Homo sapiens: one gene and its partner. The protein of the gene in region 1 purifies or fractionates together with the protein of each later gene. This does not show direct contact. Each region holds a gene or a part of one and is shown on either strand. Other genes may lie near its edges.

Region 1 (3,910 bases):
TTGTCCTTTCAGCTCATCACCCTGAGAACAAACCCAGATGCAGCAACGCAGAACAGGCGATTCCAGTTCACTCAGAATCAGAAGAAAGAAGATTCTAAAACGTCCACCTCGGTCACCAGTGTGAACCAAGCCAGCACATCCCGCCTGGAGGGCCTACAGTCAGAAAACCATCGCCTGCGAATGAAGATCACAGAGGTACCTCCCTCTGCATCTGGTAGCTGGGCCCTGTCTGCCACTGAAGCCCCTCTAACCCTGTGCGGGGACTCTCAGGCTCCTCTAGACCATCCCTGCAGCATGACCGTGCAGTCTCATCAGCTGCAGTTGCAGCTGCGAGAGCCAGGGGTGACATAAACCACACAGAGGCATTTGTCAGAATCCAACATGAGCTTATTGCCCACCTCACCCAGGCTCTTGGAGGCCAGCAACACCTGATTCAAGCCATCCCCAGACAGAAAGGAACTCAGGGAGATTTGTGAGCTTCTGGATTATCATAGCTTCCTACGTCAGTGTCTCTTTATCTGTGTCTCTCTCCCTCTCAGTTTTTCACTCTCCCAGCACAACCCAGCAACCACCACATCTATGTGATGTACAAGAGAAGAGAAAGTGAAAAGAAACTTTTCAAGAGAGAGTGCTGCAGCAGACCTCGCCTTTGTCCTGAGGGTTCTCAACTGGTTCTTGAATATTCCAGAGAGACCATAGCCAGATTGCCTTGTGCCCAAGCCAGGCTTGGCTTGTAGACCAGGGAAGGGAAAACAAATTACCTCCCCTCCTCTACCCCTCCCTTTGGGTTGGAGGTATGCCTGAACCCGTGCTCTGCAGGCTGTGTGTTGCTTTAATAGAGGAATTCTGATTAGGGAGGGGGACAGGAAAGGGACCAAGGAAAGTACATTGGTTACAATGCTGGCTAAACAAGGCCCCAAAATAAAGTGGCCCAGAGAAAATATGTTTATTTCCCTTTTACCTAATGGCCGTGAAAAGAGAGGGCCCGGTTGGGGCAGCTCTGCTCCCCAAGGTCATTGCTGGGCTTGGTTCCTGCCCTCTGGTTTTCCCCACTCTCCAGGGTGTTCTCTTCATTCATAGCGGGAGAGCTGGGTGGACAGCATGTCCTGTTCACAGTGTCAGGAGGGGAAGAGATAGAAAGTCCACATGAGGGATTGCCTTTTAAGCAGTAACACCAAAAATTGTGCATATTTTGGTTCTGCCCTAGTCACATCAACAAAAACTGACATGAGCACACCTAGTGAGAGGAGAGGCTGGGAAACGTCGTCTCTAGCTGGACAGCTGCAAGGAAGAAGTGAGACATAGGGTTGCCAGATTAGATATGGGATGCCCAGTTAAATTCAGACTTCAGATCAACAACCAATCATATTTTCAGTAAAAGTTTAGCCCAAGTAATACTTGAATATACTTATACTAAAAAAGAACCCATTATCTGAAACTCAAATTTGACTGGACATTCTGGATTTTTATTTGCTAGATCTGGCCGCCCTTTGGGGGGCTCACAGAATTCTGCCACAGAGAGCCACCATACAGTTGTCTGTGCACCTAAAGATGACTGCTTTAGGATGAGGTAACCCACCATCAGCTGCCAGAGCAAACTAAGAAGGGTTTCTGTCCCCCAAAGCCCATTACAGGCTCTGTTTCAATATCAGACCTCTCCTGATGAGTACGACCATGTCACTGCATTTCACTTCTACTTGCACACTTCAGCAATGAAGAGTTCAGTCACATTAGGAAACCCAGGCCACTATTTAAAACTCTTAAATGTTGTGTTATTTTTCCCGGAAATGAATCACAATCTGGCCTCCTGTTGTCCCCACCCTTTGATCCTACTCCTGCCATTTAAGTCACATAGAAAAGAGTATCTCTTTCCCTCCTCCTCCACATGAAAACGTGTTAAACAATTTCATGGCTGTGTTCCTGACATCAGAACAGCCTCTGATAGTTTATCAGGTCTCCTCCCTTATACTACAGCAGGATGCTGTTTGGAAAAATCCTCTAACCATGTTTTTCCTGTGCTCTTGCACCAACACAACAGTCAACGCAGAAGACTTCTGTGACCAAATGTGTGTGGGGTTTTCCCCACCAACGAGCAGCAGGCACCCGCTGGGTGCCTCCAGTTCAAATCCAATGCTACATATCTAGAGATAGCTTCAGATCCCACAGGTTGAGGGCTCAGTCCCCAAGGCTCCCCCTGACCCCCACCCTACCCTCAGATACCAGTCATAAGTCAGGCCTCTGGAACTTCTGACCAGCCAGCTTCAAGTTGGGACTCCCAGGATCCTGCTTTGGGTTGAATTAATTTGCTAGAGGGGCTCACGGAACCCAGGGAAACACATTTACCAGCTTATTACCAAGGACATGAATGAAGAGATGCACAGAGCGAGGACGGGTGAAGGGGTGTGGAGCTTCCCTGCCTCCCTGGGCCCCATGCTCCAGGAACCTTCACGTGTTCAGCTACCCAGAAGATCTTCATACCCTGTTCTTTTGAGTTTTTATGGAGGCTTCATTACACGAGGCATGACTGACAACTGTGTAGAAATGTGATTGGACAAAAATGCATGATCTAAACCCAGCAAGGCCTTTCTGCTCAGAATTTTCTTGGCCTCTCTGTAGCATTCCTTCCTCCAGGGTATGGGGCAAGACTTTCTCTCTGTGATAAAGGTCTTTTGACCTACATCAGATTACAGTCCTGCCTTGAGCAGGTGAGAAAGGACAGGAGAAGGTCAGAGAGAGTGATTCTGTTTCATGAGGCCCGCTCCTGAGGCCTAAAATGCCCCAACATTATAACAAAAGACTCTTACAAGAGATATAGCAGCCAGGAATCATGGATGAAAGCCATTCTATTATACAGATATGGTAATATCACAGATGTTCAACACCCATCCCGACTACCACCCCCAACAACTACCAACACTCATATTGCCCAGGCTTCTCTGGGGCTGAATTGCCCCCAGGACTTGCACCTGATTTTTGTATAACCTGGGAATGGGCCAGGTGCTGTGGCTCACACCTGTAATCCCAACGCTTTGGGAGGACAAAGTGGGAGGATCGCTCGAGCCCAGGAGTTCAAGACCGGCCTGGGCAACATAGAGAAGACTTGTCTCTAAAAATAAAAACGTGGGGATGACTGGGACCCATCCTGATTAACTCCTCTGAGTGAGACCCTGCAGGTCAGAGTCTCCATGATAGTGTGAGGCTCAGAGCTCGCGAGCCCTGCATGTCTGTCCTCCACTGTGGGTCCTATTAAGTATCAGTAATAGTAATTATAAGGCCAGGCACAGTAGTTCATGCCTGTAAACCCAGCACTTTGGGAGGCCAAAGTGGGAGGATTGCTTGAGCTCAGGAGTTCAAGACCAGCCTGAGGAACATAGAGAGACCCCATCTCTACCAAAAAAAAAAAAAATTAGCCAGACATGGTAGCATGCACGTGTAGTCCCAGCTACTCAGGAGGGTGAGACAGGAGGATTGCTTGAGCCTAGGAGATCAAGGTTGCAGTAAGCTATAATTGCACCACTGCACTCTAATCTGGGTGACAGAGTGAGACCCTGTAATAATAGTAATATTATTATAGTAGCAAGTTGCCCTTATTATGTTTCAGACACTGGGCTAAACTTTCCATGTATTATCTTGTTTGATCTGCACAACCTCCCCCTGAGGTAGGTACTATTATTACCCCATTCTACAGAAAAAGAAATTGAGACTGGGTTCTCACAAGCCAGAAGAACATCACTGCAAGTAAGGGGCAGCCTTGGGTTTGCATAAGTCCTGTCCAGAGCCTTAGCTCGTATGCTCTCCCTGCCCTTCCTCCCTGAGCTTGCTTGTCTGCTTCATCAAGGCCCAAGCCTACACTGAACACATAATTGCAAAGCCCAGGTCCCTCTTATCATAGCTTCTCCTTGAACAAAGA
Region 2 (3,500 bases), on another chromosome or scaffold:
AGAGAAAACAAGGTTTTCATTTAAGTCTGACAGATACTATACACAGAATGCTTGGCGTCTCTAGCTCATTACTTGGCCCAGGGTAGATTTTTATATAGACCAAATTGATTTAAATGACCAGTCAGGAAAATGCAATTTAATTATATATATATTTTACAATGCAGAAATGCAGGGCTGGTTGTCTAAATTAAATGCCATTCTTATTGCTTTATAGGACCTGATGTATTTCCTTCTGGAATATTTTGTTTAGAAGGTTATTCTTTACTTTGCCTAGCTTTCTCCAGTCTGTGTTTTTCGCCAGGATTCTTCCTCTGGCCTACCTAGATCATTGCTAACAACAAAAACAAGTTGTTTTTTTTTTCTTAATATTTTCTTTTAGGTTCAGGGGTACACGTGCAGGTTTGTTATATAGCCAAAAACAAGGCTTTTGTTCGTGTTTTTCTCAAAGGGAAATGCATGGAAACTTTGTTCAATTCAATGTTGTATGATATTGCTCAGTTATTTAACCTTTTTAGTCTGGATATCTTCACTTATAAAATGGGAATAATAATAGTGGCCAACTCTATTGACTGCCTACCCACTAACCCCCTCTTCCTTGCTAATAGAACCAGACCCTTTTGCTGGGGTCTGATGACTTTGTTCTTCAGCGAGCCTGGGCTGCTCCATGGCCTCGGGAGGAAACTCTTAAATTAGCCAATCACAGTGGTTCTGTCTGCCTACTTACTCATACATATAGCATGTGAGTTGTGAGTGGAAATTCCACTGGACACAGATTTTCTGTGACTTTAAAAAGAGCCGCGGCAGGGCAAGGTAGCTCAGGCCTGTAATCCCAGCACTTTGGGAGGCCGAGGTGGGTGGATCTATTGTGCTCAGGAGTTCAAGACCAGTCTGGGTAACACGGTGAAACCCCATCTTTACTCAAATACAAAAATTAGCTGGGCATGGTGGCACACACTTGTGGTCCCAGCTACTCAGGAGGCTGAGGTGAAAGGATCAGCCTCCCACCTGCAGGCTGAGGCTGCAATGAGTCATGATCATGCCACTGCACCCCAGCCTGGGTGACAGACCGAGGCCCTGTTTCAACAAACCAGAAAGAGCCACATAAGAAATCTGCTGCACCTTGATATGCCTCTACGTATTGAAATATGCCTATAATTCCAAAATTGTAGACGCCATGTCCACACAGTGAGGGGAAATCAACCTGCTGAAGGTGTCACAGTGGGAGGAAGGGAAGAATCCAGGTTGCTAAGGACATTATCCAGCTACCACATAAGTAACTCTGAAGCTACCCTCCTATCAGAGGTCTTGCGATCAATTTCCTATTGCTTACGCCATTTTAGTAGGACATTCCTTTATCAGCAGCCAGAAATATCCTGATAGAAAAATATTGTCCTTATTTCGTAGGGTTATTTTTAAAACTAGCTAAAGTATCCAGCACAAACTGAATGCCTAACAAATGTTCATTCTCAACTTAATTCTTGACATATGTTAGTCTTCACTTATTCAAATTAGTTAGTGCTTTCTTTACTCTGTGTGGTCTGAATGACTCCTCTAGGAGGCTTTCCCTGGTTCCCCAAAACAGGAATAAGGGCAGAAGTCATTGCTTTCTCCTCTTTATTCAAATAAAGATAATATCAAGTACCTAAGGTTATTTTAAACAATAAGAATGGTATTTAATTCAGACAAGTAGTGTAGTGCTGATTGCAGTGTAGAGAAAAAAATGTAATCAAACAGAGTAGTCTTCCTGACTGTGTAAATCAATTTGAACTAAATAAAATCCAACCCAGATCAAGTAATCAACACAGCAGCCAAGTGTTCTGCATTTGGAGTCTACAAAGTTTATCGAAAAGCTGCTTTCTGTAGGGAAAAAGACATAGTTTGTAGATTACAGAACATGTATGTGAAGAAGGACACATTTCCTCTGAAATCTCACCTCATTCTTATTTCAGAAAGGCACCTGCACCTTCTGCTCAAAACCTTCTCCACAAGCCCCCTTCGCCCCAATATCTTTACATGGCTGAATCCTCAGCATCATTTTGGTCTCAACTCAAATGTCACCTCTTCAGAGAGGCCTTCAGGGATTACTCAACAAAGTAATCTCCCAATTACCCCTGCCAGCATAGGCACAGTCCCACCATTCACCCTGTTTCTACTTCAATCCATCAAAGCACTCACTACTACTTGACATTTTCTTTTATTGTAAGTCATTTCTGTCAATGGTTCCAATCCTGGTTGATTCTGATTTAATTACTCTGAGGTGAGGTTGGGACATGATATTTTTTTCAAACTACCCTCTCAGTGATTTCTAATGTGCAGTTAGACCTAAAAACCACTGGTTTATGTGTTTACTGAGTCTCTCTCAATACTCGAATGTAAGTTTCAAGAAAACAACCGACCAGTTTTGTTCATCCTAGTCTCCCTGGCATCTTGACGAGCACATGGCACATTGCAGACATTAGGACTTTGAACACATCGATTAATTCTATTGTAATTATATTTCTGTATTTGTCTGTTTTCCCCATGAGTTTGTGAGCTCTTAGAGGACAAGTACTATGTCTAGCCCACTCTGCATCAAAAAATGAGTCACTCAAGAATGTTCATTAAATAAATGAATGATAAACAAACTGCATTGTGTGGTATAAGGAAGACAAAGATGAAACCAGATGTGACCGCTGTCCTCAAAGAGCTTGGAGTGTGGTCAAAAAAAAAAATTATGCAGATTGCTGTTATACACACTAGAATGAGCTAGATGCTGTGATGAAAGAACAAAAGATTTCAGAGGAGCATTGTTTTTTTATTGGGGAAAAAAGGGAAGAAACCAAGGGAGGCTTCATGAAAGAGGCAGCATTTGAACTGAGCTTTACAGGACAGATGGAATTTGGTTATTCAGAGAAGTAAGACTGTGGGGACAAAGTGTGGAAGGGGAAGCAGGAACTAACTTATCCTAGGCGGAGAGAAAAGAACTCAAAAAACAAGTCAGCCCAGCTGGAGGTTAGGAGGGCCTCAACTAAGACACCGGCTATAAACATGGAAAAGAGTCAGTATCAAGATATTTTCCCAATCACAATTGCAAGGAGCCATGCAACTTCCTGCAACTAGAGGTGCTTGGTGAGGAAGACAGTGAAGTTGAATTGTCATAACTGAGGTAATGATAAATGGGGTGTCATTAACAATTATGAAATCAGGTGAGGAGCTGGTTTTGAGGAGTGGGAAAGGTGATGGTGAGCACAGTTTTGGACATGTGAGTTTCATTTTCTGTGGGTTGGATGTTCTGGTGAATTTGCAGGCAGCTTGCTGTACAAGCTGAGAGAGGAGGTGAATGATTAGGATGCTTCATCAGATTTGGGACTGACCCACACAGCAACAGTGACTAAAATCACAGGACAGAATTTGATTAGGGAGAGGGAGAAATTAAATGGCCAAAGACTCGTATCTTGAGAACACTCATATTTGGGGAGCAGGAACTGAAGTTAGTGAAGTTGGAGCCCGCAGAGAGGTAG

Evidence for each region. The genes of interacting proteins can lie anywhere in the genome.
Region 2: the proteins of GABBR2 (region 1) and GNG2 fractionate together in Homo sapiens (co-fractionation; one study listed by IntAct). This does not show direct contact.

Annotation. Positions count from the first base shown.
Region 1 is NC_000009.12:98,299,526-98,303,435, reverse strand, and holds part of GABBR2 (gamma-aminobutyric acid type B receptor subunit 2 precursor), read left to right. Parts: intron 1-12; coding exon 13-195; intron 196-3,910. UniProt on the Homo sapiens protein: Component of a heterodimeric G-protein coupled receptor for GABA, formed by GABBR1 and GABBR2. Within the heterodimeric GABA receptor, only GABBR1 seems to bind agonists, while GABBR2 mediates coupling to G proteins.
Region 2 is NC_000014.9:51,867,112-51,870,611, reverse strand, and holds part of GNG2 (guanine nucleotide-binding protein G(I)/G(S)/G(O) subunit gamma-2 precursor), read right to left. Parts: intron 1-3,500. UniProt on the Homo sapiens protein: Guanine nucleotide-binding proteins (G proteins) are involved as a modulator or transducer in various transmembrane signaling systems.